Regions from separate parts of the Homo sapiens genome. Here all the other regions are linked to region 1. The links come from fine-mapping of genetic effects on gene expression. A gene starts in region 1. Each other region holds a variant in brackets. All regions are shown on one strand. Distances are from middle to middle. Region 1 holds the start of PPEF1 (protein phosphatase with EF-hand domain 1). Region 2 overlaps PPEF1 (protein phosphatase with EF-hand domain 1). Region 3 overlaps CDKL5 (cyclin dependent kinase like 5).

The links. PIP is the estimated chance that this variant, and not a neighbour inherited with it, causes the effect.
Region 2: its variant is the best candidate, but not a certain one, in a credible set for the expression of PPEF1 in spleen (GTEx, PIP 0.88).
Region 3: its variant is the best candidate, but not a certain one, in a credible set for the expression of PPEF1 in testis (GTEx, PIP 0.61).

What each region holds. Positions count from the first base shown.
Region 1 is chrX:18,701,401-18,712,564 of GRCh38, forward strand. PPEF1 (protein phosphatase with EF-hand domain 1) reads left to right here and starts at 6,245. Exons shown (of 16, transcript NM_001377996.1): 1 at 6,245-6,426. The coding sequence starts at 6,381.
Region 2 is chrX:18,782,338-18,793,501 of GRCh38, forward strand. It overlaps PPEF1 (protein phosphatase with EF-hand domain 1), which reads left to right. Exons shown (of 16, transcript NM_001377996.1): 8 at 29-65; 9 at 1,562-1,711; 10 at 6,784-6,936. Among named protein-coding and RNA genes, the nearest start is that of PPEF1, 80 kb to the left of the region's middle. The variant A/T (reference allele first, on the strand shown) is at 5,561.
Region 3 is chrX:18,565,049-18,574,376 of GRCh38, forward strand. The region is part of intron 4 of CDKL5 (cyclin dependent kinase like 5); the gene reads left to right. Among named protein-coding and RNA genes, the nearest start is that of RS1, 100 kb to the right of the region's middle. RefSeq lists an enhancer at 641-1,203. The variant C/A (reference allele first, on the strand shown) is at 3,940.

The DNA of each region.
Region 1 (11,164 bases):
CTCATCAGCTAAAAACAGTTGGTCTTTGTTCAAGCTAGTTTTTTCCCACCACTCAGTCCTCAGTACAAGTCAGTAAGATATGCATTATTATCACTGTTTTCTTATGAGGAAACTGAGGTACAGGGGAATTAATGACTAAGAGTTCAAACTCCTGTTGTCTGACTTCTAAACCCAAGGCTCCACTGGGCCAGCATTAGGCAGTTAGGAACAATAGTTCTTGAGATGCTTTACTTCAAAAGGGCCCCTTGCTAGGCTCTTTGGGAAATAGTGGTCAGCTCTTTCTGAGAGATTCACAATGTATGTTCATATATTAAAGGCTCTGAGAAGTCCTGCAGTAAAGAAACCTGTCCAGCTCTACATCCCCTGAACTTATTATGTAATAGTGGGACCTTTATTTTGGCCTTAGTCCTAGAATAATAAACCACATAGAACTATTCTTCCACAAACACACTTTGGAAAACCTGGCACCAGGCCACGCTGTTTCCTGATTACAATCATGTCTGATATACCAGCAGACACTTTCAAACACCTTCTGGTGGTCAGTATAGTTTCCTCCCTTTTCTTATCCTCTCATGTGGCGAGACCCAGGAAGAATCACCAGCTTGGTCTTACAGACCTCCCCTTACTCATTTAAGACCCCAGACATAAGTAATTGCTCCACTGTTCTACTGGAAAGGTAGTGATGGAAGGGAACTCTCTGGCACGGGCTGCCAGGGACTCCTCTGCCTCACCCTATGCCTCTGCATTATATTTAGGCCACAGACATCAGGCTATAAAACCTCTGTGGCAATGAATACCAAGCAGAATGCAATAGGGTGAGCCTGATGAGGCATCTGTTCCTCATGCTAGCACAATCTACGGGGGAAGAATTACACCTGCCTGCTTCACTCCCACTGTGGTGGTCGGGGGTGGGGGTAGAGGGTGTTGGTATCAGTTGAATGACTATGGGTTCCAGGTTTTCAGGACTAGAGCTAAAGCCAATTTCTTGCTAAAGCCAACATCTCTAGGAAAAGCTGAATTCTAGCATAGGAAACTACGAAACTGACATCTAGAATGCCAGAGAGGGTCGTGTCAGGGTGGCTGAGCCAAGGTGTGGAAGTTGGATAGAGATGAGCTTAGAAATCAGACCACCTTAAGAATGAACAAGAACAACTCGGGGAGGCTGGGCTAGTGGTTGGAGGGTGCTTGGTGGCGAACGTTAGTTTGTCCCCACGGCCTGTCTTTTGTACTTTCCTTGTATTTTCAGCATTGGAAGTGAAAGATTAGCATGAAAAAAATGGAAAATTATCAGTTCCACCCAGTCACCCCCAACACACACACAGTAAAAACCTTTTAGCGGAAGGCTTTCCTTTTGCAAATTATAAGTGAGTGCCAATGATGAGTCATTATTTCATGTTTACTCTTTAAAACCATCCTTGGTATATATTAGAAGGGACAGCAGCAATGGGCAAGTTTCAAGCTGTTTTTTTGCCAAGATCCACCCAGCGGCTCATGTTACCCACTAGGACATTCTTGGGCGTTTGTGAACCCTGTGGAAGCCCCCCACCTCTTTGAGCCTGAGAACCCTTTTCAGGCCTCAGGGAATCACTTCTTCAGAGACTTCTTCAATGCACTTAAACGCTAACAGAGGGTGGGAAATGGAAGCAGCTTAGATTTTACCAAGTCATGGAAAATCCCCAATCATTTTTATCAGCTTTACGTCAGAGATGTCCTCAAAGGCTCACGCACTGCTTACAAACTCACTTCCCTCTCTCCTGGAAGTCTAGGTGGGGCAGTACATGGGAGGGGTAAGTGGCATCTTGCTTTAACCAGCTCATATTTTGGTGAGAATGAAAAAGAACTGACTTTTTTTGTAACCTATTACCTGAGAGAAAAACAGTTAAAAATAAACTGATAATAATTATTTAATAATGTAAAAATTATTATAGCCAATTTTTTCTAATGGATAATCAAAAAATTCTAGAACATCATGTCTTTCCATCATGATTTTAAAACTTTCTTTAAAAATTATGTATAAGTACTACCCCTTTCTGATTTAATAAAATGCTTTTGTATAATTGAATAGCACCTACCTGTGCACAAAATGATGGATTAATAATGACTTTTAGCAACTAAATTTTTAAAGAACTCTGGCCTAGGAATATTGATTCCTTTGTTCATTCATTCATTCATTTAGCATTATCCAACATCTGCAATGTGAAAGGCACCATGTAGGTGCCAGAGATTCAAGGGCTACTTTGGAAGTTGCCCGTGGGGCTAATAGTCTAACAGAAATATACTCAAGTTTGATGCTTTTTAGTTCTTACTGAATCTTTTATATGCAGTTGTGTTTGTTGTGGATTAACTGAGGGGTGACTGAAAACCAAATGCCTCTGGAGAGATATTGAGACAGTGCTTTTTTTTTTCTGGAAAAAGAAAATCGAAATTGAAATATGTCAATCAGTCCAATCAGTGTTTATGGCCTACTAAATGCTCAATTCTTTTTTTCCCCTGTTTTCTTTTTTAAATTAAAAAACATACCTTTTTTTTTTTTTTTTTTTAAAGTCAGGATTTCACTCTGTCACCCAGGCTGGAGTGCAGTGGTGTGATCACGGCTCGCTGCATCCTTGACCTCCCAGGCTCAGGTGATCCTCCCACCTCAGCCTCCTGAGGAGCTGGGACTACAGATGTGCACCACCATGCCTGGCTAATTTTTTGTATTTTTTGGTAGAGATGGGGTCTCCCTATGTTGCCCAGGCTGGTCTCGAACTCCTGGGCTCAAAGGATCCATCTGCCTCAGCCTCCCAAAGTGCTAGGATTACGAATGAGAGCCACTGTGCCCAGCCCCAATTCTTATGTCTTCATAAAAAGGGGTGGAAAAAATAGCATGAGGATGGAGCGAAGCCCAAGCGAGATTTGGATACTGTTGGAAAATAGTGTTTCTTCAACTGAGATATGGGGATTCCTTGCATCAAAGTTCTCGGCATGGTGCACTTTAAATGTGTATTCCAAGGCACTGGACTTTTGAATCTGAGTATTGTTAGTAAAGCCTGGGAATCTGCATCCCCCCACCCCCAATAAGTCTTGTGAGCACTCGAGTTGGAGAGCACTGATCTAGGCACCTGGAGAATGTCACCAGGACTAGATGAATTCCTAGATGAACAGTGCCCCAATTTCAAAAATGAGAAAAGAATATATGCTAGAAGCCACAGACTTGATATGACCTCTGGAAAAATTCAGCTTGAAATAGATGGAGCCAAAGCATTTCTAGGAAAATGTGATCATCACTATGCAGCACCGTGGGTTTTCTAAAATACCGTCTCTATTACAGATTGTCAAACTTTGTTGTGTATTAGAATCTGGAAAACTGAAAAAAATCTTGATGCCTCATCCTCCACCCAGTACCAATTATGTCAAATTATCTGGGGGTGGGACTTGGGCATCAGTATTTTTTAAACCCCAAGAGATTCTGACTTAATGAGGTGCAGGCTGAGTACTGGGAGTTTGAAAAGCTCCCCAGGTGACACTCATATGCAACGAAGTATGACAAGCACAGGTCTATATGACATGGGACAAGTTGCTTAACTTCCTTGCACTTTGTGTAAATACTAGGTAATTTTAAAGGTCTCTCTCACCTTTAAACTTCTATGATTTTGTATTAAAAATGTTGCCAAATTGATTTCCTTCCTTTCTTCCTCCCCTGCCCTTCCTTCCTTTTCTCCTCCTCCTTCCCTCTCTCTTCTTTTGCTGGAATAAGCTGGAATGTCAAAGTATCAAAATATATACATATCATCATTTTATTAAAATATTTAGTAAAATTCTCCAGGATGTCTCACAGATAAATGAGAGTTATGATAGGTGAGTTTACCAGCTAACTGAACAAATGTGCTCAGCGAGTATGAAGGTAACGGATCTGTGGTGAACCTGGAGGATGGTTTGGAGTGGGATGCCACAGGGCTCATCCTGCCCTTGGATCTGATCTTGTTAATGTTCTTTAGCCATGATGTAGATAAGGAAGACACGAAAGAAATGCCTATCGAATTTGGAAATAAAGCCAAGCACGGTGGCTGATGCCTGTCATCCCAGCACTTTGGGAGGCTGAGGTGGGCACGTTGCTTGAGGCCAGGAGTTTGAGACCAACTTGGGCAACATGGTGAGACCCCATGTCTACAAAAAAGTACAAAAATTAGCTGGGCATGGTGGCGCATGCCTGTAGTTCCAGCTGCTCAGGAGGCTGAGGTAGGAGAATCACTTGAGCCCGGGAGGTGGAGGCTGCAGTGAGTCATGGTTGCGCCACTGCACTCCAGCCTGGGTGACAGAGCGAGACCTTGTCTCAAAAAATAAATAAAAATTTGGAAGTAACCCAAAGTTTAGGAAGGCTAATTCATTCAATACATAAAATAATCAGGTTCACCTCTGGTCAGAAAATCTGTTTACTAAGCTTATTGTTATTTTCAAAACATGGCCATAGTTCAAATATTTTGCTTATTTTAGTTTTCCCTTTCTTCAGTCGAGTTGAAATTTTGAAGCTTTTGGTGTAGTACCAATGGAAAGATAGATATGTCAGTTGTTTGCTGACTTTGTGCCTGTCAAGAAATGCAAATAGGGCTGGGCAAGATGGCTCACACCTGTGATCCCAGCACTTTGGGAGGACAAGGTCGGAGGATCACTTGAGCCCAGGAGTTTGAGACCAGCCTCGGCAACATAGGGAGACCCTGTCTCTACAAAAAAATAAAATTAGCCGGGTGTCACGGCACATGCTTGGGAGGTTAAGGCTGCAGCGAGCCGTGATTGTGCCACTACACTCCATCCTGGGTGACAGAGTGAGACCCTGTCTGAAAAAAAAAAAAAAAAAAAAGGAATGCAAATATATTAGATCAGGTTGGTTTGGAGCATCACAAAATAAAGGAAACATCACCCTAAAAAGTGACGTGACAGTATACTATGGAAAGGAATTTTGTTGAAAACTCCCGTGAAGTGATTATGGGAGTCAGGGAGCTCATGAGAAGGACTATAGAACACAAAGTTAGACTCCAGAGGGGCCTCAGCAGTGCCCAGAGAGCTTGTTTAAAAGGGCACTCTTGGCCAGGCACGGTGGCTCACGCCTGTCATCCCAGCACTTTGGGAGGCCGAGGCAGGTGGATCACCTGAGGTCAGGAGTTCGAGACCATCCTGGCCAACACAGCAAAACCCCGTCTCTACTAAAAATACAAAAAATTAGCCAGGTGTGGTGGCGCATGCCTGTAGTCCCAGCTACTAGGGAGGCTGAGGCGGGAGGATCACCTGAGCCTGGGAGGTTGAGGCTGCAGTGAGCTGTGATCACACCACTGCACTCCAGCCTGGGTAATAGAGCGAGACTCCGTCTCAAAAAATAAAATAAATAAAAGGACACTCTCACAGATTACAATTCCTAAATTTGGGGGGAGGTTTCAAACCTCCTTTTTTTTTTTTTTTTTTTTTTTTTTTTGAGATGGAGTCTCGCTTTGTCGCCCAGGCTAGAGTACAGTGGTGCGATCTCAGCTCACTGCAACCTCCGCCTCCTGGGTTCAAGCGATTCTGCTGCCTCAGCCTCCTGAGTAGCTGGGATTACAGACATGTGCCACCATGCTTGGCTAATTTTTGTACTTTTAGTAGAGACGGGGTTTCACCATGTTGGCCAGGCTGGTCTCGAACTCCTGACCTCGTAATCCGCCCGCCTCGGCCTCCCAAAGTGCTGGGATTGCAGGCGTGAGCCACTGCGACCGGCTGCCTCCTTTTTTTTAAAACAAATGTTCCCAACTTATTCCGCGAAATACTGTCAAAGAACTCACTTTGAATTTCAGCATAGCTGTTAAATATGTTGTTTTTGTCTCATAGTCAACTTCCAATTTGTGTTTTTAAAAGCCTAGATAGGTTGAATTACTTTGAGCTGAAAACCAAAACAGTTAATTATGTCAGCTCCTCCACATCCCATTCCCCATATTTAAATTAGAAAATCGTACACTCTCATATTTCGATTTTTCTTTTCATTTTGAATGCTCTATTTTATACAGAGCTGGATGTGACCTAGACATGGAGAAACTCATTTATGTCTAGCAGAGAAGCAGCCTATAGCTGCTCTGTAGCTGCTGCTGTGTTTTGGAAAATAAGCCAGGATTAGATTATGTCTGATCACTTTCCACATCACATGATGAACAGCGATTCAGAAGAAGCGTAAAATGAATCCTGCTGAGCAGCCCCTCAGCTACCATGTGGTTAACTGGCGGTTTCCTTCCCTCCCTCCTGTGTATTCCTCATTAGAATCTATGACTGAAGAGGATCGGCTAAGAGTGGTTCCTCGCAGCTTAAAGGGAGGCACTTTTCACACTCTGTCTTAAAATCAGAAGTTGAATTCATGAACACATATGATTTAGATAGAAGTCATGGGATGCAGCAGTTCTTCAACGAAAACCAGGAGATCTGACACATGTGAGTACTGGGAATGTGCCTGTGGTTATGAATGAAAAGGGGAAAATGAGCTGCCCTCACCCTCTTCTCCTTTCTCATTTACTCCCACGATGCTCAAGCTGCCCTGTGTGATTTGCACAAGGCATCGTTAGAGTAGCATAGGAAACTACATTTAGGAAGATGTAGCTTTGAATTTATGAAGTACCATAAAGTATTGTCTTAGAGATATTTTGTGTTTGATTTAATTTCATTCGATAATGTACCAATATAAAATCTCAATTTAAAACTCAGTGGCAGGGAACAAGAAAGGCAGTGTAATTTATATGTGTTTCTTCAATACTTTTATAAATAGCTATATCCCTACTTTTGTGACATTTAGTAGCATCATTGAATTTTTATTGGATTTTATAACTCAATGATCACATTATTTCTATATCTATTCAACACAGAACTTCATGAGATTTGCATCACGTTTTAAAAATAATCTAGGAGAATTGGGAGAATGCTAGATCATCTGTTTCCAAAAAAAAGGTGTATTGTTTCTAAATAGATGGCATGCCTTTCTGTACCCCCATATAATTAGAAGCTTAAATATTCACTTTGTTTATTTTGTACTGAGGTTCTTTCTCATGGCTATTGGCATCTAGTTGAAACAAACTTGAGCATTTAAGGGATAGAGTTTCCAACAAGCAAATTAAAATAAAAACAAGTAAATAAGCTGGGACAATTAATATGAGTAATTTGCTCTTAAACTCCACTTCTTTGATGTCTAGGTTATAGGTAATTCCCCCAACTTCTATTCCACGTCTTGCCTTTGGAAGTTTATTCAGGCTTAAGGTGGAGGGTTTAGGATGCAGAGTGTGCTATACTAATTAGCGTGGGATGTTTTACTTTGGGAATCAAATGTTATTCTCCTACCCAGCTGACTTGTGCTGATGATGTAGGAAACTCATCTCTGAAAGTAGGAAGGGACATAGGAGGTGTACTGACTCTTTCAAATCTTTAAGCATGTCATGAAATAAATCTTTCAAAAGCTCCATCTGAACTCTACTGCTGTAGTAGACGTTTATTAGCAGAGAGTAAAGAGAAATTATCTTTTTATATCTAGGATTACTCACAGTTCTTTAAATTTAGCCAAATTTCCTAGGTTAAAAAAAAAAAAGCCAAGTCCAACTTGTAAAAACAAATCCTCTCTCTTTTTGAAATACTTTTCAACTTTTAAAACATTGCATGTAAGTGGAAATATTAGCTTAGATTTTTGGATTGCTTTTTCTTTCAAATACCTGTGATTTATTGAGGTGAAATTCACGTAACATAAAATTAGCCATTGTCAAGTGAACAACTCAGCAGCAGTTGGTATGTTCACAGTGTCGTGCAACCACAACCCCTATGTACTTCTGAGACATTTCCAACACTCCAAAGTAAAACCCCTTATCCATTAAGCACTTTCTCCTCTCAGCCCCTGGCAACCACAAATCTATATTCAGTCTCTATGGATTTATCTATTCTGGACATTTCATGTAAATGGAGTCATATATTATGTGACCTTTTGTGTCTGGCTTTGTCCATGTTGTAGCATGTATCAGTACTATATTCCTTTTTATTGTGGAATAATATTTCATTGTATGAATATGCCACATTGTATTTATCCATTCATCAATTGATAGACATTTGGATTGTTTCAGCTTTGTTTTTTGTTTTTTGTTTTTTTTGAGACAGTCTTGCTCTGTCACCCAGGCTGGAGTGCAGTGGGGCGATCTCGGCTCGCTGCAACCTCCGCCTCCCAGGTTCAAGCGATTCTCCTGCCTCAGCCTCTGGAGTAGCTGGGATTACAGGCACACACCACCACACCTAGCTAATTTTTGTATTTTTGGTAGAGACAGGGTTTCACCATGTTGGCCAGGCTGGTCTCGAACTCCTGACCTCAGGTGATCTGCCCGCCTCGGCCTCCCAAAGCGCTAGGATTACAGGCGTGAGCCACTGTGCCCGACCTGTTTCAGCTTTTTGACTGTTATGAACAATGCTGCTGTGAACATATGTTTTCCGTTCTCTTGGGTATATACCTAGAAGTGGAATTGCTGGGTCATACGGTAGCTTTATGTTTAACATTTTGAGAAATTTCCAAGCTGTTTTCCCAAGTGACTGCACCATTCTACATTCCTACCAGCAGTGTATAAAGGTTTCAATTTCTCCACATTTTCAGCGATAGTTGTTATTGTCTGTCCTTTTGATTTTAGTCATCCTAGTGGGTATGAAGTGGTATCACACCATGGTTTTCATTTGTATTTCAGTAGTGACTAATGACATTGAGCATCTTTTCATGTGTTTATTGGCTATTTGTATATCTGCTTTGGAGAAATGTCTATTCAGATCATTTACCCATTTTTAATTGAATTATTTATTTTTATATTGTTGTAAGATAAATTTATATATTCTAGATACAAGTTTCCTATCAAATATGTGACTTGCAAATATTTTCTCTCATTTGTTGAATTCTCTTCATCCTTTCTTAATGGTGTTCTTTGAAGCACAAAAGTTTTTACTTTTGATGAAGTTCACTTTATTTTTTCTTTGGTTGCTTGTGATTTTGGTGTCATATCTAAGAATCCATTCCCGAGTCCAAAAAGATTTTTGCTCACGTCTTACTTTAAGAGTTTTGTAACAACTCAACAAGAAAAAAAAGATAACTCCATTAAAAAGTGGGCAAAGGTCATGAACAGACATTTTTTCAAAAGAAGGCATACAAATGGCTAACAAACACACGAAAAAAATGCTCAACATCACTAATCATCAGGTAAATGCAAATTGAAACCATAATGAGATACCACCTTACATACCGGTCAGAATGGCTATTACTAAAAAGTCAAAAAATAAGAGATGTAGGCAAGGATGTAGGGAAAAGGGAATGTTTATCACTGCTGGTGGGAATGTAAATTAGTACAACCTCTGTGGAAAACATTATGGAGATTTCTCAAAGAACTAAAAATAGAGCTACCAAACTACCATTTCATCCAGCAATCCCACCACGGAGTCTACCCAAAGGAAGTCATTATATCAAATAGATATCTACACTCTTATGTTTACCGCAGCACTATTTACAATAGCAAAGATATGGAATCACCGTAAGTGTTTTTCAATGGATGATTGGGTAAAGAAAATGTGTGGTGTATGTATATGTAAGTGTGTGTGTGTGTATATATGTGTGTGTGTGTATGTGTGTGTATATATACGTATATATGTATGTATGTGTGTGCATATATATATGTATATATATGTGTGTGTGTGTGTATATATATATATATGCATGCCATGGAATACTACTCAGCCATAAAAAAGAATGAAATCATGTCTTTTGCAGCAACATGGATGGAACAAGAAGCCATTATCCTAAGTGAAATTACTCAAAAAACAGAAAGTCAAATACCCCATGTTCTCACTTAAAAGTGGGAGCTAAATAATGTATACATATGGGCATCCAGAATACAATAATAGACACTGGAGACTCAGAAAGCTGGGAGGGTGGGAGGGGGGTGAGGTATGAGAAATTACCTAATGAGTACAATGTATGCTACTTGGGTAATGGTTACGCTAAAAGCCCAGACTTCATTATACATGTAACAAAATTACACTTATACCCCCTAAATATATATGTTTTTAAAGGCCAAAAAAAGTTTTGTACTTTTAGCTCTTACTTTTAGGCATTTGAACCATTTTGAGTTGCTGATTTTCACGTATGGTGTGAGGTAGGAGTACAAATTCATTTTTTGCATGTGGATATCCAGTTGTCTCAGCACTGTTTGTTGAAAAGATTGTTCTTTCCCCATTGAATCCTCTTAGCACCATTGTCAAAAATCAATTGACCATAAATGTTTATTTCTGGGCTCTCAATTCTATTCCAGTGATCTGTATGTCTTTCTTATGCCAGTACCAGTGTCTGGATTACTATAGCTTTTTTTTTTTTTTTTTGAGACGGAGTCTTACTCTTGTAGCCCAGGCTGGAGTGCAATGGCACAATCTCAGCTCACTGCAACCTCCGCCTCCCAGGTTCAAGTGACTCTCCTGCCTCAGCCTCCGGAGTAGCTGGGATTACAGGCACAAACCACCACATCTGGCTAATTTTTGTATTTTTGGTAGAGACGGGGTTTCACCATGTTGGCCAGGCTGGTCTGAACTCCTGACCTTGTGATCCGCCCGCCTTGGCCTCCCAAAGTGCTGGGATTACAGGCATAAGCCACCACGCCAGGCCTACTATAGCTTTTTTTAATAAAGTTTTGAAATTGGGAAGTATGAATTCTTCAACTTTGTTTCTCTTTTTCAAGATTATTTTGGCTATTCTGGGTCCCTTACATTTCCATATGAATTTTAGAATCAATGTGTCAGTGTCTCAAAAGAAGCCAAGTGGAATGTTGAGAGGGGTTGTGTTGAATCTGTAGATCAATTTGGGGAGTATTGCTATATTAACAATTAAATAATCTGATCCATGAACATGGGATGTCTTTCCATCTATTTAGATCTTTAATTTCTTTCACCAGTGTCTTGTAGTGTTCAGAGTATAAGTTTTACACTTCTTTCCTTAAATTTAACCTAGGTTTTTTATTCTTTTTGATGATATTATACATGGATTTTTGTTAATTTCATTTTTGGATTGTTTATTGCAAATGTTTAAAAATTGATTTTTGTATATTGGTCTTATATCCCAAAACTTTACTGAACTCATTAGCTCTAATAGGTTTTTAGTGGATATTTTAGGAATTTTTAT
Region 2 (11,164 bases), 81 kb after region 1:
AAATCATTTAAATCCCATTTTTTTTTAGGTATGGCTTCACGAAAGAAATTTTGCATAAATATAAGGTAAGACATGCTTTTTTTTTTTTTTTTAGTATTCACTTTGCTGTTTCTATAGAGAAATTTAAAAAGAGCCAAGAAAGACCAGATTGATGCTTTAGGAAAGGTAATAGGCCAACTAGTCAGAATGCATGCCAATAAAATACAAGCACAGCAGGAAGCCCTGGCCACAGTAGAGTCTTATATTTTCTTTCTGGATTAAACCACACTTTTTCATTGTGAGTTTTGTGTAAGTTTTAGCATAGATACATATTTCATTGCTTCAAAGGTACCAAGGATTTGTTTTACTTAGGTGTGGTAAAATATGCAGACACAGAAATGACTGTCATGAAGGAAGAGATTTTTATTTACAATTCTCTAGAAAATGGAGGCACTGCAAGCCACTCTGGGAGACCGCGTGGGGAAGCACCAGAGTTGGTCAGAAGGCAGAGGGAGGCTGAGCACGGTGGCTCACACCTGTAATCCCAGCACTTTGGGAGGCTGAGGCCGGTGGATCACTTGAGGTCAGGAGTTCGAGACCAGCCTGACCAACGTGGTGAAACCCTGTCTCTACTAAAAATATAAAAATTAGCTGGGCGTGGTGGCATGCTCCTGTAATCCCAGCTACTCGGGAGGCTGAGGCAGGAGAATACTTGAACCCAGGAGGCGGAGGTTGCAGTGAGCCGAGGTCGTGCCACTGCACTCCAGCCTGGGCAACAGAGTGAGACTCCATCTCAAAAAAAAAAAAAAAAAAGAAGGCAGAGGGAGGGTGGAGGGAAGCATCTGAGTGTAATCTGGTTTAGGACTGACCAATTTGAGTAATTTCAGACTGCTCTGGGCCACAGAGGTTGTCCCTAGTTGTCTGGTAACTGGCCCCGGGATGAGGAGTGTGAGAGCTCCATAAAGAAGGTAGCTGGGGTGTGGGCTCTCGGTTGCTTGGTTTGCATATGAAGGGCGAGTCATTGACTATCTAGGAATTAGCTAGCCCCGGGAGGGACAGTCTCTCCTCCAGAGTCAGCAAGGCCCCAAGATGTCATAGTATCAAAAATACAGAATAAAGGGCCAGGCATAGTGGCTCACATCTGTAATCCTAGCACTTTGGGAGGCCAAGGTGGGCGGATCACCTGAGGTCAGGAGTTCGAGACCAGCCTGGCCAACATGGAGAAACCCCGTCTCTACTGAAAATACAAAAATTAGCCAGTCGTGGTGGCACACGCCTTTAGTCCCAGCTACTTGGGAGGCTGAGGCAGGAGAATCGCTTGAACCTGGGAGGCAGAGGTTGCAGTGAGCCAAGGTGGCGCCACTGCACTCCAATGCGCAACAGAGCGAGACTCCATCTCAAAAAAAAAACAAAAACAAAAACAGAATAAAAAGACATGATGAATACATGCTAATTGGTTAGTGACTCCTTGCTGACTTCCTTTGAGTGGCCTGAAAATCATTACTTTTTGTCCATACTTGGGGACTATTCAATAAACTGAACCTGTCAGAAAAACAAAACTTACTCAAGCTCTTACTTACAGCTACATGGAAAAAGAATCTTACAAATCTTGGAAGAATTCTATGCCTGGCTCCCAATCGGTACAATCGTTGACAATGAAATCCTGGTCATCCATGGTGGGATATCAGAGACCACAGACTTGAATTTACTCCACCGTGTAGAGAGGAACAAGGTAAGAAGTAATGTTGGCATGAATCTTCTCTCAGGGATTTAGAAGGGAATACATACCTCTTCATTTATTATTTTGAATTGATTTGTGTTTTAGTGGTTGTAACTCTAAAAAGATTATAGATTTTATTAGAGTATATAAAAGTATAAATTTTAAGAAAAATCTATGACTGCATGATAAAGAACTAAGTGGGTAACTTCTATATATGGAAAAAAATTTTAAATTCATGTTGAGGGTGGAAAAATGAGGAAATGTTGGCATTTTATGTAGTTTCTAAAAGTGAAAAATCCTGATTTTTAAAATTAAAACCTCAATTCATTCATTTATATTGTGGTAAAATATACATAACATAAAACTTGCCACTGTAACCATTTTTAAGTGTATAGTTCAGAGGTATTAAGTATATTCACATTGTTGTGCAACCATCACCATCACTACCATCTATTTACAGAATTTTCCATCATCCCAGACCGAAACTCTGGACCCATTAAACACTAACTCCCCATTCTCCCCTGTCCCAGCCCCTGGCAACCACCAACCACCATTCTACCTTCTGTCTACGAATTTCACCACTCTAGGTACCTTATATAAGTGGAGTCACTTATATAAGTGCAGTTTATTTCTGAATTGATACGATTTCCCACATAATACACATCAAATAACTTAGGATACTTTTTTTGGAAATATTTTTTTGAAATGTTTAAATAATCATGTTAAATACAAGCAGAGCAGGAGCTAGTATGGAACCTCTGAGACAAGTGGCTATGTGGTGACTGTGAAGATCTCACGCCTAGTGAAGGGTTCCTTGGACGGGTCTTGCAGGGTCATTGGAGTTGTCTTCCTCCTCTACTCAAGCCAAGAGGAAGCCCTCAGGCTAGAGGTGTAGGGGCGCCACATGGGTTGAAGACCAGTAACAGCAGTGGAGCCAGATGATGCTATATGGTCCTAGTGGGAAACCTGAACTGTTACCCCTCAGGACTGATCATCAACTTCCAACCAACCTGGACAGGTGGGGTCTAGAGCTGGAATTTAATCTGATAGAGACAGAAATGTGACCCCAGTGGCACCTTGACTTCTTGGACCCTTTATACACATGTGAATGAGAATGTCGTTGCTGGTATCCTCCCATCTTTTTAATTAAAGTTTAATAAGTCTGACCTCCAGACCAGATGAGATCCCCTTTTGTATACTGTCAAGCCCTTTGTACATATCTTTCATCACAGTTACCGAATTTAAGTAAGAAATTGTGGTACTGTTTGTTTACTATCTTCCTCTGTTTTTCTAGTCCATTGATAAAACCCCAGCACCTGGGATGTAGTAAGTACTTAATAGTCACTGACTATCTCTTGAGGGATTTAAGATCAAAGCAGGGTAAACCTAAGACAAAACTGAATAGAAAGTTTTTTACAGCCCTCTCCTGATTCTGTGGTGATTTTACATACCACCCTTCCCCACCTCACCAACTGATGATGATGCTTCCTGGCTTACACCTGTTGTCCTATTGTAATTATTAATAGCACCTCCTTTTACTCTAAAAAAAAAAAATCCCAGTTGCAGCCAGGCATGGTAGCTCACCCCTGTAATTCCAGCACTTTGGGAGGTTGAGGTGGGCAGATCACTTGGGACCAGGAGTTTGAGACCAGTCTGGTCAACATAGCAAGATGTCATCTCTACAAAAAAGAAAAAATTAGCCAGGTGTGGTGGTGCACACCTGTGGTCCCAGCTACTTGGGAGGCTGAAGCATGAGGATTGCTGGAACCCAGGAGTTTGAGATTGCAGTGAGCTATGATCGCACCACTGCACTCCAGCCTGCATGACAGAGAGAGACCTTGTCTCAAACACAACAAAACCCAGTTGCAATAAAACTTAAGCCCACTCTAAGTTTAAGGTACCTTTCTCATTATATCAGTGAGTAATCAAGCCAATAAGACATTTTGATCAAGATATAATAGTCATTATTAACATAATGAGTGGATTAGATTCTAACCAAGAGCACAAGGGAACATGATGTCTTTGTCAGTCAAATATTGGTGAACACAGGGCATGAATGCCACATTCCATCACCACCTGCCCTATGACTACAGTGCTAATCAGTCATGGCAGCCTCTTCCAATTGACCAGATTGAACACTTTTGCTTTCCTGAGGTTAGCCTGAGCAGCCAGCTCTATCGAGGGCTTTTTGAGATATTGAGAAGATGCCTCTGGGATGTCCCTCACTAGCTCTGTGGAGATCCCAAGTTGAGGGCCACCTTAACATAGTAAAGACTGTGAGGCTCTAAGATTAGACAGACAGAACTAGGTTAACATCCTGCCTCTGCCCCTTCCTGGGTGACTGGGCAACATACTGAGGTTTTCTAATCCTTGGTTTCCACACGTATAAACTGAAGATAAAAATACCTACCATATTGGATTTTTGGGAGGATTAAATGTAATTACCTATATGAAGAAAATGGTGGCCAGGCGCAGTGGCTCACGCCTGTAATCCTAGCACTTTTGGGAGGCTGAGGTGGGCGGATCACTTGAGGGTAGGAATTCAAGACCAGCCTGGCCAAAAAGGTGAAACCCTGTCCTTACTAAAATACAAAAAAATAGCTGGGCATGGTGGTGCACACCTGTAATCCCAGCTACTTGGGAGGCTGAGGCAGGAGGATCACTTGAACCCAGGAGGCAGAGGCTGCAGTGAGCCAAGATCAAGCCACTGCACTCCAGCCTGGGTGACAGTGAAACACTATCTCAAAAAAAAAAAAAAAAAAAAGAAAAGAAAAGAAAATGGCATATACTACTAAACATATAGCTTTCTCCTCCAGTTCTCTCTTCTTTTTTCCTTATACTTGGTTCTGAGGTTTGTGTTTCAGTCACCAATACAGACCCTGGGGAGAGTTTGTGGGCCAGCCATTTTCTCAGGATACCTAAAGTTTCACCCCCTTCAGGGATAACTGTTCTACCTGCTCTTTAGACTGGCTTTAAAGATAGAAATTCAACTTGTATATTGTTTGTGTCTTCTACCCTTCCTTGAGTGAGGTTGAACTGGTAACACATACTTGTTGTATTAAATATCATTGAACTGTAGTGAAAATGATAGGTTCAACCATTTGGAACTCTATCAGATGAGACATAAAAGTAGATTGTTCCAGTCCAGTTTTATAATCCCCACTTTCCCATCCCATAGGACCCTCCAACCCTCTGTGGCAGGAGGGACCATACTTCCTGGTTTACACCTGCGGTCGTAATGGTATCATTGTTAACAGGGGTTGGGAAGGGTTGGGGGAATTTGATGACAACCTCTATTCTAGGTTCATTTAAGGTATTTTGTAAGGTGGGCAGGTTGAGGGGGGTCAATGCAGAGGGATTAAAGAATGAAGGAAGATTTTCTAAAACTAAGATTCTGGTTTATTATTTGTCAAACTCCCCAGCAAGGCATTTGCAGAAAGATGGCTACTAGACTCCCTGGGGGAAAATGGTCGTGTAGTGCCTTAGGGAGAGCTGGGGCAAAGTATCCTGATCCCAAATGGCCTTGAAAACTTCAGAGCCACACATACTTAAGAGACCATGTGGCCTTGCTCAATGAGCTCATCAGAAATGAGTTGTGTACAGCTGGGCACGGTGGCTCATGCCTATAGTCCCAGTACATTGGGAGGCCGAAGTGAGACGATCACTTGAGACCAGAAGTTCGAGACCAGCCTGGGTAACATAGCAAGACCCCATCTTTACAAAAAAAAAAAAAAAGAAAGAAAGAAAAAGGGAAAAAGAAGTGAGTTGTGTGGACCCAAGTCCAGAGGGTCCTCCCAGAATATTCTGCTCTGCCCCTAATGGGAACATTTGCTGGCAGGAGACAGGGCAGGTAGGCTGTGA[A/T]CTAGCTAGCAATAGCTGAGCTTGAATTTCTACCTAGCTCAATGAGACAGGACCTCAGAATAAGATTCAATTTCATTTTTGAAAAATAAAGGTAAGATTTCCTACACACTCTAGTTTGTAAAAGAAACTAAGTGCTTGGCCGGGTGCAGTGGCTCACGCCTGTAATCCGAGCACTTTGGGAGGCCAAGGCGGGCGGATCACGAGGTCAGGAGATCAAGACCATCCTGGCTAACACGGTGACACCCCGTCTCTTCTAAAAAATAGAAAAAATTAGCCGGGCGTGGTGGCGGGCGCCTGTAGTCAGTGCTGAGGCAGGAGAATGGCGTGAACCCGGGAGGCGGAGCTTGCAGTGAGCCGAGATCGCGCCACTGCACTCCAGCCTGGGGGACAGAGCAAGACTCTGTCTCAAAAAAAAAAAAAAAAAAAAAAAGGAAACTTAAGTGCCTACCACAGAGAATTTGTCTATCACTGAACCACGGCCACCAGTATAACAGAAGTATTGTTTAATATTGTTTTGTTTAAAGACATGGTGCTACAAAGAAACAAGTATAAAATTACAGTCTCTGCTTGTGTAAGGGAACAAGAGGGATTCTAGTAATTGATGCCCTATCAGAAAGACGTTTTGTTTTCCAAAGAAACGCAGCAGTTTTGTTGCCAAGATTAGAGAACATCGTCAATGGCTGGCAGAGTCAGGCTGAGAACCACAATGCATTTAGGTTGGAAGGGCTTCTGAAGTTTTCAACCTATGTCCCCTTTAAGAACTTTCTTGGACACAGATGTACCTTTTCTCTTTTCTTCTGGAAAGCATAACAAAATGCACAGCAGCCACTCTATTAAGAGGTGTTTCTGAACTCCTGAAGATCCTATGGCTAGATAAAGGCTCAATAAGGAGACTCGTTGCCCCTACCTTGGTATCTTCCATTTTCTGTGTGGATGCCACAGAATGTGTTTAACACCTATAGAGAAACTCCAGTGAAACACAGAAACTCTTTCTTTATAGGCAATGTCTGTAATTGGAAAATGTACCAACAATGTAACAGACCCACTTTACAGACATCAGTGGATGAGTGAGATATAGGAGGTGGACGAGATGCAAAAAGTGACCGTGTGTTTTTCATTGGGTTGTGGCACCACAACATAGAAAGAATCCCACCTGGGACTGAAGTCTCTGTATGTGGCAGAATAAGCAGAGGGTTGGACTAAAGCATGAATTTGTTTTATAGATGAAATCTGTGCTGATACCACCAACGGAAACAAACAGAGACCATGACACTGACTCGAAGCACAATAAAGTAGGTGTGACTTTTAATGCACATGGAAGAATCAAAACAAATGGATCTCCTACTGAACACTTAACAGAGCATGAATGGGAACAGGTAGGTAATCAGGGTGTTCACTGCAGTGGCAACAATGACACTAGCGTGCATGTTGTCCCTTACAATATATAGATAAAAAGTGACTTTACCTTTACGAGGAGACCACATGATTCTCTTGGAATTCATCACTATATTTTTAACAGCTTTATTGAGATATAATTCACATACCATGTAACTCACCCATTTAAAGTGTATAATTCAATGGTTTTTGGTATATTCACAGTGTTGTACAACTAGCACCACAATCTAATTTTAGAACGTTTTCATCATCTGAAAAAGAAACTACATACCTATTAGCATCATTCCCCATTCCCTTCTGTAGCCACCCTGTGCCACCTAACAGCCTTAGGCAACCATCAATCTACTATCTGTCTTTACAGATTTGCCTATTCTGAACATGTTGTAGAAATGGACACATATGTGATGTTTTGTGTCTGGCTTCTTTCACTCAGCACAATGTTCTGGAGGCTCATCCATGTTGTAGCATGTATCAGTACTGAACATCTATTTGTTGCTGAATAATATTCCATTATATGGATATACACATTGTATTTATTCATTCATAAGCTGATGGACGTTTGGGTTGTTTCCACTTTTTGGCTACTATGAATAATCCTTCTATGAGCCATCACATACAAGTTTTTCTGTGCATGTATGTTTTTATTTCTCTTAAGTGTGTACCTAGGAGTGGAACTGCTGAGTCATAAACTAATTCTAAAAAAGTTTAACATTTTAAGAAAGTCCCAAACTGTTTTCCCAAGTGGCTGCACCATTTTACATTTCCAGTAGCAATGGATGAACGTTCCAATTTCTCCACATCCTCTCTAACACTTGTTATTGTCTATCATTTTGATTATAGCCATCCCAGAGGGCATGAGATGGAATCTCATTGTGGTTTTGATTTGCATTTCCCTAATGACTAATGATGTCAAGCATCTTTTCATGTGTTTATTGGATATTTGTAGATCTTCTTTGGAGAATTGTCTATTCAGATCCTTTGCCCATCTTAAAAACTGAGTTATTTATCTTTTTATTATTGCATTGTAGGAGGTTTTTTGAATATATTCTAAATACAAATCCTTTATCAGGTATATTATTTGCAAATACCCTCTCCCATTCTGTGGGTTGTCTTTTCCCCTTTCTTGATGGTGTCCTTTGCAGTACAGCAGTTTTTAATTTTGGTGATGCCCAGTCAAAATGATATATTTTTTCTCTTTGGTTGCTCGTGTTTTTGGTGTTGTATCTAAGCTATTGCCTAATCCAAAGTCATAAAGATCTATTACTTTGTTTTCTTCTAAGAGTTTTATACATTTAGCTCTTAAATTTAGGTGTCTGATCCATTTTGAGTTAATTTTTGTGTGTGGTGGGAGGTGAGATTCCAAATTCTTTCTGTTTTATGTGGATATTTAGTTATCCCAGCACCAATTTTTTTTTTCTTTTTTTTGAGACAGAGTCTCGCTCTGTTACCCAGGCTGGAGTGCAGTGACACGATCTCGGCTCACTGCAACCTTTGCCTCCTGAGTAGTAGCTTGGATTACAGGCATGCATTACCACGCCTGGCTAATTTTTGTATTTTTAGTAGAGATGAGATTTCACCATGTTGACCAGGCTGGTCTCAAACTCCTGACCTTAGGTGATCTGCCCGCCTCGGCCTCCCAAACTGCTGGGATTACAGGTGTGAGCCACTGTGCCCGGCCACCAGCACCATTTCTTAAAAAGACTATACTTTCCTTGTTAAATTTTCTTGACACCCTTATCAAAAAATCAGTTAACCATAATAAAAGGGTTTATTTCTAGACTCTTAATTATATTTCACAATCTCTATGTTTATCCTTATGTCAGTACTGTACAATTTTGATTACTGTAGCTTTGTGGGAAGTTTTAACATTGGGAAGTGTGAGTTCTCCAACTTTCTTCTTCTTTTTCCAGATCGTTTTGGCTATTCTGGGCCCCTTGAATTTCCATATGAATTTTAGGATTGATTTGTCAATATCTACCAAAAAGCAGCTGGGATATTGGTAGGGTTGCCTTGAATCTGTAGGTCAATTTGGGTACTATGGCTGTCTTGAGATGTCTTTCCATTTATTTAGATCTTTAATTTCAACAATGTTTTTTACCTTTCAGTATACACGTCTTGCTCTTGTTTTGTTAAATTTATTCCTAGGTGTTTTTGATGCTATTGTAAATAGAATTGTTTTCTTAATTACATTTTGGATTGTTCATTGCTAGTGTATAGAAATACAACTGACTTTTATATACTGACATTGTGTTGTGAACTTTGATAAACGTATTAGTTCTAATGGTTTTTAGTGGATTTCTTGAGATTTTCCACCTACAAGATTATGTTATCTGTGAATAATTTTACTTCTTCCTTTCCAATCTGTCTGCCTTTTCTTTTCCTTTTTTTTCTTTTTGCTTAATTGCCTTGTCTAGAACCTCCAGTACACTGTTGAATAAAAGTGAAGAGAGTAGATGTCTTTGTCTTGTTCATGATACTGGGGAAAGCATTCAGTCTTTCATCAAGTATGATATTAGCTGTGTATTTGTTTGTAGTGGCCTTTTATTACATTGAGGAAGTTTCTTTCTATGCTTAGTTTATTGAGTGTTTTTATTGTGAAAGAGTGTTGGATTTTGTCAAATGCTTTTTCTGAATACATTGAAATGATGTGTTCTTTCCCTTTATTCTATTAATACAGTATATTATATTGATTGATTTCAGAGATGTTAAACCAACCTGACATTCCTGGGATAAATCCCACTTGGTCATGATGTATAATCCACCTTCTATGTTGCTGGTTTCCATTTGGTAATATTTTTTGAGGATTTTTGCATCTATATTCATAAGAGCTATTGGTCTATGGTTTTCTTATGTTGTGATATCTTTGTCTGGTTTTGGTATAAGTTTGGCCTCATAAGAGGAATTGGAAAGTATTGTCTCCTCTTCTGTGTTTTAGAAAAGTCTGTGAAGGATTGATTTTAATTCTTCAAATGTTTGATAGAATCCATCAGTGAAGCCATCAGGGCCTGGGCTTTTCTTTGCAGGAAGTTTTAAAATTACTAATTTCAATATTTTTCCTTGCTATAGTTGTATTCAAGTTTTTTGTTTCTTCCTGAGTAGTTTGTGTCTTGGTAGTTGTGTCTTTCTTGGAATTTGTTTCATTTCCTGAAACAAATTTATTTCATGAAATTCATTTCATCTAATATATCTAATTTGTTGACCTAAAGTTGTTTGTAGTACTTCTTTATTTTTTTTTCTCCTGAAAGTTTGGTAGTAATATTTCCTTTTTTTTGTTGGTCAGTCTCACTAAGGTTTGTCAATGTTATTGATCTTTTTGAAGAACCAACTTTTAGTTTTATTGATTTTTCTCTATTGTTGTCTATTCTCTATTTCATTTATTTCTGCACTAATTGTTAACAGTGGAGGGTGTCCAGGTTCTTGGCGTCTTGAACAATGAATTGGACAAAACGCACAAACAAAGCAAGGAAGGAATGAAGGGTTTTACTGAAATGAAAGTACACTCCACAGTGTGGGAGTGGCCCCGAGCATACGGGCTGAAAGGCCCTGTTATAGAATTTCTGGGAGTTTCAATACCCCCAGAGGATTCCATTGGTTACTTGGGGTACACCCTATGTAAATGCAGAGTTTGAAGTAAAGTTACAAAGTCATTTACAGCATAAGCCCAATGGAGAGGATATTTCCTGTCATAGCTGAAGTGTGAACTGGCCTTATGTTCCCTGCCTCCAGACCTTATTTTCCTGCCTCATAATCTTTATCATTTCCTTCCTTCTGCTTGTTTTGGGTTTAGTTTGCTCTTCTTTTTTTCAGTTTCCTTAGAAGGTAATATCATTGACTTGAGATCTTTTTTATTTTTTAACAAAGATACAAATTTCCCTTTAAGTACTGCTTTAGCTCCATCCCTTAAGTTTGCTATGTTATTAAACAATTGCTGCTGCCTTAAAAAAAATAGTTTTGCTATGTTGTGCTTTTGTTTTCAATAGTATTGTCTAAATATCCTTGTGATTTCTTTAACTTATCTGTTATTTGGTAGTGTGTTGTTTAATTTCTACATATTTATGAATTCCCCATATTTCTTTCGCTTATTGATTTAAAATTTAATTTGATTGTGGTCAGCGAACACATGCTTTGCCTGATTTAAATTCCTTTAAAACTTTTTTTCTTTTTTTGGTAAATCCTTTTAAAATTTGTTGAGGCTTTTTTTGTGGCCTA
Region 3 (9,328 bases), 140 kb before region 1:
TGCTTAGGGGCCTTCATCACATCCAGACCATTTCAGACAGAGTTGTAAAATTACCCCATGCTGGGCAAGAAAGTTTAAAATAATGCATTTCAGTAGTTCATTAGTTTTAAAATCTAGACTGTTGGCCATCCAAAGATAGCCAAATAGAGAAACTGATAACAAAAATAGGTATGGCCTTTAAGGTGCTCTAGACAACATTTTTTTCAGACTTTTTGGACTGAGACCCACAGTAGAAATATATTTCATATCCTAACCCAGTGTCCGCACACATATGTAACACTATATGTAAATGAAGCAAAAATGTCACGAACTTCATCTTATGAATGTGAAGCTCTCTACTTTCTGTTCTTTCCTGTTCATGTAAATGCCTATTGTGACATCAAATGGATTGATTTCACTACTAGTAAGTCAGAGCCTGCTATTTGAAAAACTATGGTCTAAGAGTAAGAAGTACCAACACAGCATCAATCTTCATATCTAATTAGAAGTGTGGAAATAGCAGTCATAGCTTACCTTCATCAGCACACATCCCCTAAGTGATGTAAGACACCAGCCTCTATATTTATGAACAGTTTCATCACCCTCACCTCAAAGACTTAGCAAACATTAAATAACAAAAAGGGACTTGCTCCAGGATAGATGTAGTAGTATTTGATGTAATCCATCTCTGATGTGCTAGTTATATGAAACACATGCATATCAGCTGGGAACTTTAGCAGTCATTGTATGGGCAGGCTTAAAGGGAAGGTAAAAAGTGGAAGGTAAAAAAGAACTTTTTGCTTGTTCTGGGGGGACAAAAAAATCTTGCTTCAAATGGGATATTTGTGGTCTAGCAGGAAGCAGTAGCTCCAGGCTATCCCACTGTGATACCATTGGAAATGAGCTCTTTGAGCAGTGACTTTGGGTCAGCAGGTGGCTGAGAGACAAATGGTGATTTCCTAAAAAGAATGGTTGCAACAGTAGATCAAAGCACAACCTTCGCATGCATGTAAAGGCTTCTGGCTGTGCATTCATCTTTCAGGGCATATTGGCAAGCATCAGTTACCACCAAAAATAATAACTGTCATCAAATTTTGTAAAAAGTACAATCTAGGCCATGTATGCCACCTTTTTTTGTTTATGAGACAGGGTCTCACACTGTCACCCAGGCTGGAGTGCAGTGGCGCAATCTTGGCTCACTGCAACCTCCACTCCCCGGGCTCAAGTGATTCTACAGCCACAGCCTCCTGAGTAGCTGGGATTACAGGTGTGCGCCACCATGCCCAGCTAATTTTTTGTATTTTATTTGTAGAGACAGGGTTTCGCCATGTTGCCCAGGCTGGTCTCAAACTGCTGAGCTCAAAGTGATCCGCCTGCCTTGGCCTCCCAAAGTACTGGGATTACAGGCGTGAGCCACCTTGTCCAGCCCCATTACTTTCTTTTTAAGTAAATACCATGTTCTTTATAATCTCTGTCTTGTGCATACCAATTCTTAGCTTCAATTATATATTTTTACCTGTGTTAATGATACCTTTAGAGTGGAAATCTAGTGTATCCGTTGAAATTCATTGAGCACTGAGTGAAGTGCTGTAAGAGTTGAGGTGTGGATACTTTCAAGAAGCATATGACCTATTAGGAGAATTAAGACCTGCAAATAAATAACAATAAAACACAGTAGAAAACAGTTATTGCCTGAATGGAGACATGGAACTTGGATCATTTTGAGGTGAGAGAAACTGTTTCTGGACGTGGTATTGGGAGTTCATGAATAGTCTAGACGTGGAAGACATTTGATCTGCCCTTATTTTATTGAACCAACAAAACATTAATCTGCTCTGCCCTCATCTCTGCCAGACCCTTATCACTCACCATCCCTCAGAGGCATGCAGCCTTATCACCCACCCCACCTTGTCAATGACACCTACGTACCACCTACACATACTTCTAGAGGGATACTTCCAAAACATTTCTGTGCTAGAACCCAAAAACATAACCAATTATTCATAAACTTTTTCATTCCAGTCTGGCCCACTTACCTACTGTTTACATTTCTCCCAGGGAGATACTAGTACTCTCTTTTTTCTGTCTTTACCCTTTTCCTCTGGCTGGAGTAGTGTCTTGCTTAATGGAAAAAAGGGTACATGTTTGGTGAACAACTCTTTTGGAGTGTGAAGTGTATATAGATAGTCTCATTCAGGTAAGGATGTCTATTCAACCCCTGGGTAAACCATTTAATTCTCAATCAGTTTATTAAATTTTAGCCAATTATAATAAAAAACAGTGTCGTGATAATATTGCCCTCATTGTCATGTAGCTCTCATTAATCCCCTTTATTAGTTATTCTTGAAATATTCATTTGATATTATGGCAGTGATTATCTAGATCTAATGTTTAAAAGTCTTAGTGAAGATAACGAAATAATCCTGTAAAAATATTGTTAACTGAAATAGGATCTGCACTTGGTCTGAGCCATGTTCAAGGTAATCCAGTGCAGATGCTCCTTGACTTGTGATGAGGCCACATCCCAGTAACCCATCATAAGTGGAAAAAATTGTTACGTACAAAATGCTTTGGCTGGGTGTGGTGGCTCACACTTGTAATCCCAGCACTTTGGGAAGCCGAGGCAGGAGGATTGCTTGAGCCAGGAGTTTGAGACCAGCCTGGGCAACATGGCGAGACCCTGTTTCTACAAAAAATTTTTAAAAAAATTAGCCAGGCATGGTGGTGTGTGCCTGTAATCCTAGCTACTCAGTAGGCTGATGTAGGAGGCTCGCTTGAGCCCAGAAGGTTGAGGCTGCAGTGAGCCGTGATCATGCCACTGCACTCCAGCCTAGGCAACAGAGTGAGACTCTGTCTCCAAAAAAAGGCTTTACTACACCCAACTTACCACACATCATAGCTTTAGCCTAGCCTCCTTTAAACATGCTCAGAACACTTATGTTAGCCTATAGTTGGGCAAAATCATATAACAAAGCCTATTTTATAGTAAGGTGTTGAATATCTCATGTAATTTATTGAATACTGTAGTGAAAGTGAAAACCAGAATGATTTTATGGGTATTCAAAGTATGGTTTCTCATGAACGCATATGGCTTTCATGCCATTATAAAGTCAAAAAATCGAAGTCAAACCATTGTAAGTCGGGACCATCTATTCTCTCACTGATATCACGGAATATTTTGTGAGAATATATGTTAATTTCTGGTAGCTTTAAAAGATTATGCTAATGTCCTACTTTCTTGTTAAATTCATATATATTCACAAATTTATAAAAAATGTTTGTGAAACTATATTTTGTTAGACTACTATTTAGTTCAAGAAGTCTTTATTATCCCAGGATGATAGATCACTATTTAAAATGGGAATCAAAATTTCATAGTAAATAAAAGTTTATTTTGGGACTTTAAGTGGATAAAATGAAACTAAAATTATGAAAATAAGTTTATAGTTAACACAAGTTAGGTTATAGTAGTAACTAATATGCTATTTCAAGAAAGAATGAAGTGTTAACCTTTTTGGGAGGAGGAACAGTTTTTACAGTAAAATTGTAGGCTAGGCCAATGAATAGCTTCTATAGTAAAGAGGGTCATTAAGAAATATACAAAAAGCTTTGTCAGTTTTCTCTTCTTCTTCTTCTTCTTTTTTTATTCCTGTCTATGTGTCTTCTTTTTCAGGCTGTGTGTGTGTGACAGGGTCTTGCTTTGTATCCCAGGGTAGAGTACAGTAGCATGGTCATGGCTCAGTGCAGCCTTGAACTCCTGGGCTCAAGCAGTCTTCCTGTCTCAGCCTCCCAAAGTAGCTGGGACTACAGGTGCGCACCACCACTCCCAGCTAATTTTTTCATTTTTTGTAGAGGCAAGGTCTCGCTATGTTGCTCAGGCTGGTCTCAAACTCCTGGGATCAAGAGATCCTCCTGCCTCAGCCTCCCAAAATGCTGCGATTACAGGCATGAGCCACCAAG[C/A]CTTGCCTTTTCGAGGTTTTTATTTTCTAGTTGTTAGCAGATACAATTCTATCAGACAATTTATCAGTGTCTTTGCCTGTGATTCTCTCTGAAAGACTTTGACACCCTGACTTGGGGATATAGACTCCTATTAAAAAGGAAGAATGTTTGAGTAATGAAAAATTTTGTCTGAGCTTACTTCATTAGTTAATTTTTTCTTGTTTTGATGACTTCTGTTTGTTGACCCTTCATAAATTTGGAGTCTGTGATAATGAGTTCTTTAAGATAACCCTAAATGATGGTATTATAAGTTTGGCTATTAAGTTCCTGCAGAGAAATTTTATCTAGTAAACACCTGACCAACCAGAAGTCTCCATTGTATTCGTTCTGCTCATTGTAATAGTTCTGCTCATTATTTGGATTTTCTGAGAAGGGAAAAAATGACCATAGATCATAAAGATACTAGAGATTATTTAGTTAAAAGGTACTTTTCAGACTATGTATAAATTATAAATTTAGTCCAGTTCTTCTACCCTTTCTATGACTCCCATCTTCTACAGTGAGATTTGATGTTCAGATGATAATGTATCACTGTTGTTTTGTCAAGACAAGTACAAGTGTCTGCTGTCCTCAATTTATTAAATAACCCAAGAGCGCTGATTTAGATTATATAGCTTTGGACCAGCAAGAATTCAAAATATTGTCTGTCCAGCCTTTACTTTAGGAAAACCTATTGTCTAGAATTTATTTTTGACATACATTTGGACCTTCTTTTTGCTTCTTTAGACTTTTCCATCTTTCCTTAAATGTAAGGTGATGGAGTGAGGGGAGAGCCTCTCTGCTTGTCACTGGGCCTCTGTGCATGGCAAGGAGGCTGACTCCAGGGAGCTATACACTAGTCTACATTTAAGATGAAACTTAGGTTGTGTCTCTGCTTTTATATAAAATAAAATTACTTGCATTTCGTATTCTGCTGAATGTTTTCTATAGAGAACTATTTTCCTCTTGGAATGGACATATTCTTCTTAATTATTAGAAAACATTTAATTGATCATCTGTTCTGTCTTCTAATTTATTTTATTCTTCTGTTTACCCAGACACTGGAAAGCTCTATACTGATCTCTGGATCAGGAGTACTCTGGTCTCTTATTTTATATAATGGTACAAAACCAGAGTTCGTAATCTGGAGTCCTTAAATTCAAGAGCCTGATTTCTGTGTGAAAGAGGCCTTGAAACAAAAAGTCCAACCCTTGATTAAACAAATAATTTGATTAACTGAGCTTGAGCATTCTGGCTAGTCATGATTTTACCACACTTCCTTTTCATGTTCAACATGGACCTCCTTCAGACTTCAGGGATTCTTCTAGGATTTGGTGATCATTTTGCATCTTCTGTGATTTAATAAATTTCTACTGTGCTTTTACCTGTTCTTCATCTCTAAAGATTGGAGGGTCCTCATCTTTCTTGGTGTATGTAACAGTAGCACTAGCATTCAAACTCCCTCAGCCACATTGTCTGTCTATTGATGTCCCTTCTTCAATAAGAGCAACCAGACTCAAATATGGTACCCCCGTGGTTTTGATCAAGGATGGGTTGATTTTTCTTTATCAGTTTATCTGTGTAAAGGTCCATTTGGGGTGGGGGGCTCTTTGGCTATACAAAAATGTCAGGTTTGTGATTTCACAAAGTAGGTTACAGCTATTCCTGGATTTCCTTTCTAAGCCCACAGTTCTTTAAAAATAGAGTTACAATAGAGTTTCTGCTCATCTTTAGATTTTTCTCTTTTCATCAGTTATCTTTGAATCTCCTTTGCTCCTGTGATCTTTCTTCTTAAGAATTGTTCTCTTTAGCAAATCGCTCTTGATTTTTAGGTGTGTTAACTTGCCTTACTGGTAAGTTTAGAAGTAGGACAGTTTTTGGGTTGTTTTTACTTAACATCCTTTTTCCACCCTGCCATTTTGTCCTCACTCAGTGGGGTTTCTATATATCTGCACATAACTTTGTCAGAGTTGATCCTGCATTCAGCTAAACCCCCTCAGTGGTAACTGATGACAAGATGGGTCAGCATGCACATAAGCAGTTATCACATAGAAGTATGGACTCGGGAAGAGTCCTTCTGAATAATCCAGTATAACTCAGCCCCAGTATACAGATGATGGACCTCAGGCTCAAAGTTGCATAGCGTGTATGTGAATAATTGCAACTAAAATGCTGACCCAGGATCTTTGTTGAGTTTTTCTTCCACCCATACTATGCCGCCTTGCCGTTCAGCTAAATGGTAGCATAGTTATACCTGAACCTGGGTACTGTGACTCACTTTCCAAAACTCACTGTATTGTATACTATGCCACCTTTGTGCCTGTGTTCTACTCAGACTATGAGGTTGAATATGACCCTCCATTCATGCACCCTGAGAAAGTTATCCTTTCTAGACTTGATTTCTTCATTTGTAAACTGGAGCCCAGCCTTGATAAAGAATCCTAGCCTAGACAAAGAATCCACGGGGATTATTTCAACTAGATGGCAGTGATTTTTGTGCTCATTTCAGTGGGCTGTGCTACCACCCTTTGAAAATGCCTTACTGAATGCTTTTTGTAAGGCATTTTGTAATGCCTTGCAAAATGCTTTCCTACTTTGTGTACCTCTGAGAAGAGAAGCCTGTGTAATTGGAATGTGCCTTCCTTCTCCCCTCATCTGATAATTTAGTTGACAGTTTTCATCATAAAGTGCAGGGCAGGCCAGGAACCTTCAAAGTACTTAGAAAAACAAAATTATAGGATGTACCCAGTAATAATGAAGAGTGCCCATTTTGCTTGAATTTAGGGAATTAACTCCACTTTCTGCCTGTTCCCATTCATTGCAATCTTAGTGCTCAAGTGTTTACCTCAACTTTTAATACTATGACTGGCATAAAGTAGAAAAGCCTTTATTTCCTAAAAACAGCTGCTCCAATGAGGTTGTTTGGGCACTACATTCTAGGTAATTTTGTGTGCTGCTTTTTGATGATTCATTTATCTTCTCTAACCATTGTTAAGTGGAGTCAATACAGATTCGAATAATGTATGTATAACAAAGCAGCCAAGTTCCATGAGGTTTAGGCTCATAATCAATACAATTTTAATGAAAAGAAATAATAGATTATTAGACTTGAAAAAGGCAATAGGATTTTTGGGAGATGGAGGCATTTATTTGTTTCTTTTACTGATGAAAAGTTAAGTGGCTTGCCTAAAGTTGCATGGTGTACTGTTAGTTGATTAAAAGACCGAGTCCAGAATCTAGGTCTCCCTAGTTAGTCCTGGTCCACTGTTCCTTCTACTAAAACCATCCTGATGCAGCCATTCTGAAGAGGGTTTATTCATTAGCAAAGTGAAACTGCCACAAGTTGGTAATAAATAATAGTACGATGTTTTTTCATTTGCATTTCCAGTACCAAGAATTCACAAAGCATCATAGTTTATGGACGCTCTTAATGATTTTATTTTTATTTAGGTATTTGTGTGCATGTACTTGTGTGTGTTCTTGACCCTGAGCACTGTCAGTGTTCTGTATCCTCCATCATTTCTAATCACATACTGTAGAAGACACCTAGGGACAGAGGTGAATAGGGAGAAGAGAAAATTCAGTTTATCGTACTGCCTGATAAGCGGTGCTTGAGGAAATTGACAGTGCTGTAAGAAAACTGAGAGGCAAAGTGCCTATTGTTTGCCCTCCCGTTGCTGTGGCTGAAGTGAGGAAGAGTTACGCATGTATGGGCAGAGATTTCCTTATGGCCACAGGTGAAGCATTCATGTAGGAAGAATGTATTGATCACCTCTCCTTGTGTCAGGTACAGTCCTGGTGTATATTGTTGAACAGAAGAATTGAGTCCTGTCCTCCATGAGCTCTTGATTTAGCAGGGATGGCTGCATAGATTGCATACCACTAAGCAAACAAATATATCAAGAAAAATGGTAAGAAGTTCTGTGAAAGAAAAGTCCAGAACTGTGATAAGGAATAATGGGGATGGAGGCCTACTTGCTTTTGTGGTCTGGGAAAGGCTCTAGAGGAGTGATATTTAAACTAAAACCTGAAGGAGCAAGCCCTGTCAAGAGCCTATGTAGTAGACTGAGCATTGTAGGCAGAGGGAGCAAGTCTGAAGGCCATTAAGGTGGAAAAATGAAGTTTGGGGCTATTTTGGGAACTGAAAGATGGAGGTGAGGGAGAGGGACATGAGATGGGGATGGAAAGGCAGGCACAGACCAGGTCATGAGTAATCAGTAGACTTGTCTCTTGTTAAATTAGTCCCTTGTTAGATCATTTGTTTCTTATTTGAGATCTGTGTGTTATTCTGTTTCTTAGAGATAGATGGATTTTAGTTTGATTACCCCAACCTTGAGTAACTCAGAGGGGATATTAGAGAAGCATGTTCTCGATCTTGCTTCTTTAGGAAACTGCCGGTGTTCCTGTGCTTCAGCAGCTGCAGCTACCTTAGCATTCTAACAGTCACAGAACACCACTGTTCTGGCTCACCCCCAACTTGCAGAACACCTGGACCTTTGTCCCCTCCCAATGCTCTAAGCTACTTTGGGATGTCCCCGATTGCATCTCAGACATTCCCCCACTGCCAGGTGACATCCACTGTCATGCTCTTTTCCCTGTAAGTACCCAGTTCCCTGTTGACTGCCTTGGTGTGATCCAGGTAATTCGCTGCTTATGCCACAGTTGGCCTTTCCTACTGCTGGTTCTTGTCTTCTCATAGGCAGTATCTCTCTTGGTCCTAATCTGTGTTCCAGTGTTCTCCAACAGCTTTCTGGCTAAAGTAGAATACTTCATTTATGTAACCAGTTCACAAGGGAGTGTTGACTCCGTGTTCCCAGTTTGTTATGGATACTCGGGTGCTACAAAGCCCTTGCTTTTATGTCATTCCCTTTTCTTTAAACTCAGTTTGAGTTGGGGGTTGGGAAAGGGGGCTGGGATAGAAAATAATCTGAGGAAACATTCCTGGGTCTGCATTTAGAATCTTCCCTCTCCCTTTGGAATCCATTCAGCCTTTTTCCTCCTGCGTGCCTTGGTTAGAGAGCCTTTCTTCTAGAGGGCATATCAAGTAGGCTTCCGTGCCCCTATCTCCACACTCCATTTTCCTCCTTCTCACACTGAAAGATGTGTCTAATCCTGAGGGTCACACAGCTCTCAAGCTAGGATTCTGGCCCTTACCCAAAAGCTTGTGGCTACATGTGTTTTAGACTTCATAATTTTTGGATTTTAGAATGGACGTGTGGCATGTTATAATGCACAGCACTCAGTAATCAAGTAGTATTTCTATAGCACAACATATGAATGTTCATATTAGATTGGATAAACAAAGACTTTATGTAGTCTCCTGTCAGTTCAGGTGTTACCTCTCAGTGAATTTGCCCCAAACTTAGAAAAA